Homo sapiens: one gene and its partner. The protein of the gene in region 2 purifies or fractionates together with the protein of the main gene of each other region. This does not show direct contact. Each region holds a gene or a part of one and is shown on either strand. Other genes may lie near its edges.

The links. Proteins that work in one complex are often made in the same cells at the same time.
Region 1: the proteins of PHF13 (region 2) and TBX20 purify together in Homo sapiens (affinity purification with mass spectrometry; 3 studies listed by BioGRID and IntAct, with this or other methods). This does not show direct contact.

Annotation. Positions count from the first base shown.
Region 1 is NC_000007.14:35,205,359-35,209,109, reverse strand, and holds part of TBX20 (T-box transcription factor TBX20), read left to right. Parts: intron 1-3,751. UniProt on the Homo sapiens protein: Acts as a transcriptional activator and repressor required for cardiac development and may have key roles in the maintenance of functional and structural phenotypes in adult heart.
Region 2 is NC_000001.11:6,611,886-6,615,636, reverse strand, and holds the start of PHF13 (PHD finger protein 13), read right to left. Parts: upstream 1,907-3,751; 5' UTR 1,571-1,906; coding exon 1,532-1,570; intron 308-1,531; exon of another isoform or gene 1-307. UniProt on the Homo sapiens protein: Modulates chromatin structure and DNA damage response by regulating key determinants of chromatin compaction and DNA damage response.

The DNA of each region.
Region 1 (3,751 bases), on a different chromosome or scaffold from region 2:
AAATTGAATTAAAAAAACGATAATATGTCATAAATAACTAGGGCCTAGTTCAGGACTGCAAGGTCGATTTAACATTTGAAATTCAATGGATGTAATGACCATGCTGACAAACTAAAAACAAAACTATATGATTGTCTCAACAGACACAGAAAAAGCATTTAGCAAAATTCAACCTCTATTCTTGAAAACTCTCAGCAAACTAGGAATAGAAGAGAACCTTTAGTCTAGTAAATTGTATGTACAAAAAACCTAGAATGAATATTATATCTAATGGTGAAAAATTGAATGCTTTCTGTAAGATAAAGAACAAGTTATTGATGTCTGTTCTTTTTTTTTTTTTTTTTTTTTTTTTTTTTTTTTTTTTTTTGAGACGGAGTTTCGCTCTTGTTGCCCAGGCTGGAGTGCAATGGCTCAATCTTGGCTCACTGCAACCTCCAGCTTCTGGGTTCAAGTGATTCTCCTGCCTCAGCATCCCGAGTAGCGGGGATTACAGGCATGGGCCATCATGCCCAGCTGATTTTGTATTTTTAGTAGAGACGGGGTTTCTCCATGTTGGTCAGGCTGGTCTTGAACTCCCGACCTCAGGTGATCCGCCCACCTTAGCCTCTCAAAGTGCTGGGATTACAGGCGTGAACCACTGTGCCTGGCCCATTCTTACCACTGCTAATTCAACATTGTACAGGTAGTTTTAGCCATTGCAATAAGTCAGGAAAAATCAAAGTCATTGTGATTGAAAAGACAGAAGTAAAACTATCTTTGTGTACAGGCATCGTGAATATCTATACAGAAAACCCAAATCTCCAAAACCCACTAGAACAAATAAGTGTTTGGCAAGTTCACAGAATACAAGATCAATATACAAAATAAATTGTATTTCTATCTATTATAAATGAATATCAGAAATTGAAGTTAAAAAGCAATATTTACTATAATACGAAGTAGGGAAAATCTGGAAAGGATATGCAAGACATATATACTTAAAACTACAAAAACATTGTTGAGAGAAATTAAAGAAGACCTAATGAAACAGAAGGATGTACTGGTTCATGATTTGAAGGATGCAATATTAAGATATCAGTTATGCACAAATTGATATGTAGATCTAAAATAATCCTGACCAAAATCACAGGAGTCTTTTTTGTAGAGATTGACAAAGTAATATTAAATTTCATATGGAAATGCAAAGAACTAGAATAGCCAAAACAACTTTGAAAAAAAAGATAGAGTACTAATACTACCTAATGTCAAAAGTTCTAACACTTTTATTCAGCTACAATAATCAAGACAGTATAGTTTTGGTGTCAAGTTCCACGAACACATCAATAGAATAAAGAGTCCAAGAGTAGACCCACATGTATGTGATGGAGAAGGGACAGTCTTCTCAACAAGTAATGTTGAAATAATGGGATATTCATAAGCACAAAAATAAACAATTCATAACTCATTCATATATAAAATTAACTCAAGATGAATCATAGACACAAACATAAAACCTCACACTATAACACTTACAGAAAAAAACTAGGAGAAAACTTTTGTGGTCTTGGGCTAGGCAAAGATCTTAAAATATGGCACCAAAAGCGTGATCCATAGAATTACAAATGGATAAATTGCACTTCATCAAAATTAAAAACTCTGCTTTTGAAAAGAAACTGTTTAGGAAAGAGAAAACGCAAGCCACAGCCTAGAAGAAAATATTTGCAAATCATATATTCTATAAACACCAGTGCCCAGAATATAAAAAGAAATCTCAAAACTCAGAAAACAAATAACCTAATTTTTTAAACAGATTATTAACAGCTAGAAATATGGAAGCAAATAAGCACAGAAAAAGATGTTCAACATTGTAGTCATTAGGGGAACACAATTAAAAGTATGATGGAATACCAGCACATGCATATTACAATAGCTAAAATTAAACATTGACCATATCAGGCATCAGTGAGAGTATAGAGGACCTGGAGTTCTCATACACTGATGGTGGGAATGCTAAATTGTATGACTACTTTGACAAATAGTTTGGCAGTTTCTTTAAAAATTGCACATATATGCAATTTAGTCATTTCATCCTTAGATGTCTTTCCAAGATAAATAAAAGTATATGTCCATTTGTTAAAAAGTATGCATGAATATGTGTAGCAGCTTCATTTTAACATTCAAAAACTAGAAACAAGTCAAATATCCATCAATAAGTGAATAAACCATAATATATCCATGCAATATAATGCTACTCAGTACAAGAAATATTAATGTATGCCCCAACATGATAAATCTTAAAATATGCTGAGTGAAATAAGCCAGATAAAAAAGAATATATTAGCTAAGATTTCATCTTTGTAAAAGTTTAGAAAATGCAGACTAATCTGCAAGAACAGAAATTATATTAGTGGTTTCCTTGGAAAGGTTTGTTGCGATGGGGACCATGGAGCATAGGAGCTTGAGGAAGCTAGCTTTTGTAGGTGTTAGATATTTTTGTTATTGTGCTTGTGGCAGTGGTGTCAGTGGTGCGTACATATGCCCAAACTGATCAAACTATACACTTTATTTCTATTTTTATTTTTTTAAGATGGAGTTTCACTCTTTTGTCTAGGCTGGAGTGAAGTGGCACGATCTCGGCTCACTGCAGCCTCTGCCTTCAGGTTCAAGCAATTCTCCTGCCTTAGCTTCCTGAGTAGCTGGGTTTATAGGTGCCCACCACCATGCCTGGCTGATTTTTGTATTTTTAATAGAGACAGGGTTTTGCCATGTTGGCCAGGCTTGTCTTGAACTCCTGACCTTGGGTGATCCACCCGCCTGGGCCTCCCCAAGTGCTGGGATTACAGGTGTGAGCCACCGGCCCCGGCTCCGGCCCCATACACTTTAAATGTGTGCCACTTTTTGTATTTTAATCATATCTCAATATAGTTTGTTTGTTTCAAGATCCCTAGTTGATTCAAACATACACACAAATTTGAGAATCACTACTCTAATCCTTCAAGTCCCTGATTTCACCCTGCAGAGGCAACCTCTTCTAGGCAGTTTCTTGTTCTGGAAACTGGAACATTCTAGAAATCCTGTGCACATGCAGGCATATATGAACATACATATCCTGTGTTCTAACTTCACAAATGGTAGCATACTTTACATAACATTCTGTATTTTACTTTTTTCACTTACTATATCTTGAAAATTATTCCATATCTATACATATGGAATGACCTCATTCTTTTTGACACCTATGTGTTAATGCAGTGGATCTGGATCCTAATTATTTTGACTATAAGAGGTGGTACTTTATTCTTACTCTAAAATAATTTGAGAATAGAGATGTAACTTAAATAGTTGCAGAGTTAATTTTCCTTTTAGGCATATCCTTAAGTCCTCATAGTCATAGTCATACTATATATTATAAAATGCCTTCATCTATGTGGGTATATAAGCTTTCTACAACACCAAATTTACTATGAATTAGGTAGTAATTTTTCACAGGTAAAGTTTGCATATTTATGTGAAATGTTGACAAGTGTTAACATTTTAAAAAGTTATTATGACATTTTATTTGCTTTGCTTATTCCCTCAATATGAAATGTGGTGTTTGGTTGTCCTTCCTCATTTAACACATATTTTATAAGTCTTCTTTTGTCCTTTGCTGGTCAATTTGGCATTGGTCTTTGGGCCACAGCTGTTCCAGAAATGTGTGCCATGCAGACTAATCTGTTATCAGTATGCACTTTTGGCGAACAAATTGGCTAAAATTGTACTGGCTTTTTTT
Region 2 (3,751 bases):
AGTGCCTTGTCCGACCCACCCCCATCCTTCCCGAGGTGCTGTTACCCGGCCGCCACTCTGCTGGGGGAGAGCCGGTGGGGAAATGGGGGGCAGGGGTCTCGGGCCGCCCCTCCCGCCGCGAGGAGCAGGCGTGCGGCCCGCGGGTTTTCTTTCGAGAAAGTCGGTGCCCTTAGAAAATTATTTTCTCAACCTGGTTCAAGCAAACCTTCTCCTCTCCCACCCCCTTGGACCCCAGGGCCGCCCACGGAGCGGAGGCGAAGGCCCGCGTTGACCGCGCTCCCCGCACTGGCGAGCCTGCCCAGCCACGGGAACCGCGGGCCGCCACCCGGGCCTCCAACTCCCGCGAAGAACTTTTCTTTCGGCGGGGAACCAGCAGAAGTGGGTCAAAAACCCGAATGCCAAGTGGAGGGCGGCGACGGCCTCGGGCCGGGGGCGCGCGGGAGGCACCGGCGCGGGGACTGGGGGTTCCACGCCGCCCCCACACGGCCCACGCCGCCCGCCCCCCCGGCCGCCTCCTCGGAAAGCAGATGGCGGAGCGGCCCCCACCCGCCCTCCCGCGGCAGCCGCCCCCCGCGACACTCGGCCCCCGAAGGTGCGGGGCCCATCCCGCGAGTATGTGTGAGGGGGGTGCGCCAGGCAGGATTCCGGGGTCCCAGGCCTGGGGAGGCCCTGCGAACCCCCGGGGGCGGCAGCGAGACCGGCGGGCTCCGGCGCCGCCTCCCCTCCCCCACCCGCCCGCGGTCGCCGGACCCGCACCCCCGACCCCAACGAGCCTCGGCTGGGGGGAGGGGACCGCGCGGGGGGGAGGCCGGGAGCCCCGAGGGCCGATCCCCGGAAGGAGGGGGAGTGAGCCGGGGCGGAGCCAGCAAAGCCCGCGGGCGGGGGGCGGGGGCCCGAAGAGAGAGGCCAGCGCGCCGGGGGGCGGTGGGTGGGGGCAGGACTCGGGTCCCCAGAGCGGGTGGGGCCCCCGGAGGACGCGGCCCCCGAGAGCCGTAGGGGGCGGGGGCCGACTGGGCCCCGCGCGGAGTCAGGGGGCGGGGCGCGGGCCACCGGGCCCGGGGGATCGGGGGAGCAGCCGGGGGCCTCGGGAGCCGACCCCGGTCCGAGGGGGGCCTAAAACTCCTCGAGAGCAACCGGAGCCAGGGGCGGGCGGCGGCTCGGACCGCGTCCCCGGGGGCGGGGAAAGAGTAAGCAGGCCGGCGGGGAGGGGCTGGGGGCGCCGACAGGTCCCAGGTCGACGCGAGGCCGGAGAGGGGCGGCCCGGGGGAGAGAAATAGGCGCAACGGCCCTGGGGAAAGGGCGCGGGGAGGACGCGGAGGTCCGCGGAGGGGACGCGGAGGCGAGGCCCGGCGGAGAGGACCGAGCGCGGGCCCGAGCAGGGGGCGGGGGTTGGGCTCCCGGGGGGGCCGACGAGGGGAAAGCGGGGGAAGGGGAGGGCGGCGCTCCGGGCGACCGGGGGTCTGGCTGCCTGAGGACGGCAGGATCGCGGAGGGGGTGGTCGGGGGCGATTCGGACGCACAGCTTCACTCACCTCCGGGTGGAAGGCGGCGGCGCAAGAGTCAGAGTCCATGTTCCGGGCGGGGGGCGGCGGCGGCTGCGAGAGTGCAGGAGCTGGGATGCTGGAGCGGGGCCGCCCGGGGCTGGGGGCTCGGGCGGCTGCGCAGGGCGAGGGCGGACCCGGGAGGGGTCGCCCGGGCTGGAGGTGATGGGGGGCTCAGCGCGTCGCTTCTCAAGCTCTGTGACCCCGGACTGGCGGTTCCACCGCCGACCGGAGTGGACGATGCAGCTCCCGCGGCGGTAGAGGCGGGAGAGTGGCTGCAGGGGGCGGCGGCGGCGGCGGTGAGCGGGAACCCGACCGGCTCCCCGACCTGACGCCCAGTTCGGCTCGTGTCTCGGGAGGGAGGGCGGGAGAGCCGGGAGGCCTGTCGGGAAATGTAGTCTGGGTGGCGACTGGAAGCCAGCGGCGAGGGGGCGTGGCGCGGGAGGCGGGCGCGGTGCCTTGTGGGAGTGGTAGTCCAAGGCCCCGCCAATACTGCGCACAAAGGAAACCTTGGGGACTCCAACCCCCATGAGGCTCCGCGGCGGCGGCCCCGGTGTGTGGAGGCGGGTCTTCTGGACTCGAGGCCGCGCGAGCGGGGGAGGTGCGGGGGCCCGCGCCGGCTCGGCCGCGGGGGGAGGGGCAGTGTGAGCGGTAGCGCCTTGGTCTCGGCGGGCGCGGGGGCGGGAGTCGCTGCGGCGGTGGGGGCGGGGCTGACGGCCCGGGTTGCGAAGGGCGGCGGCGGCTGGCACCTACCCTTCCTCGTCTCCTACTTGGGGTTCGCGCCCCTTTGTGGGGCGGGGGTCCCCGAGGCCTGGCCGGGAGTAGGGGCGGCAGGGGCGGGGACGCTGACGTCGCGGCCGCCCCGGGCATCGCTCCCCGCTCCCCGCTCCCCGCTGAGGGCGGAGTCGCCGCCCGGCCCCCGCTCCAGGCCGGGCTCAGCGAAGTTGTTTTCGCGGCTGCGGGCTTCGTGCGGCTCCCTGCTCCGGGCCCGCGGGGCCGGGACTGGACCGGGCTCTTCTCTAGGCATCTGCGGGATTCACTCGAGGTGGCCGGGTTCGTGCATTAAAAACACCGGGCCAGCGTTGTCAGTGTTCTAAAGAGGTGTGCGTTCAGTTTGCTTTCTGTTGCCGCCTAAGCCTAACCTTGGGACCGGCCGTTTTCCCACTCTCCTGAATATCCTCCGGCCCGCAGGGCGAGGCGGAGACGCGGTGTTTGGCGCTGGCATCGACTGGTACTTGTTTAGTGGTGTTTAACTGGGATGGGCAGTGTGTAAACGCTGGACCGCAGAGTATCCGACAGCTGTACGTGTGGAAGGCTGGCCGGACACGGTGGGGACTGCCCCTATGCGGTGACCAAAAGGCGGTCTGACGGGAACATTTTTAATATTCGAAAGTGGGGGAAAAAGGTAAGTACAAAACGCAGATGATTCAGTAACCTGTTTGGTAGCTTCGAAGAAGTTAAAGGGGAGTGACACAAAATTGAAAATTCAAATTAGAAAACGAACTCTTGGAGATACTAGTAAGATATTTGACAGGCGCCGAATGCTCCATCAAGCTGGCTGTTGCTATTTCAAGGGTTATGATCATTCTGATGAAGATATTTAATAGTTAGGAGATGGTGTTAATCTTAGAAATACTTCTCTGAGCGGCCGGGCGCGGTGGCTCGCGCCTGTATTCCCAGCACTTTGGGAGGCCGAGGCGGGTGGATCACGAGGTCAGGAGTTCGAAACCAGCCTGACCAACATGGTGAAACCCCGTCTTTACTAAAAATACAAAAATTAGATGGGCGTGGTGGCGGACACCTGTAATCCCAGCTACTCGGGAGGCTGAGGCGGGAGAATTGCTTGAACCCGGGAGGCGGAGCTTGCAGTGAGCCGAGATCGTGCCACTGCACTCCAGCCTGGGCGACAGAGCGAGACTCTGTCTCAAAAAAAAAAAAAAAAATACTTCTCTGAGCCTCAGTTTCCTAAGCTGTTAAATTTTAGCGTAGTGCCTGGCTAAATAAATGGTAGCTTACTGTTGTTGTTGTTGTTGTTGTTTTATTATTTCTGCAATATTGTAGCCCATTGGAGGGCTTCCCAAAGGTGATAAATTGAGGTACTTTACAAGATAAAACATGAAATTACTGATTAAAACAGAGACATTGGACTTGGCCCATCGAGACTTGATTAACAACTTCTTATACAATTGCACAGATGATTTAGCCAGATTT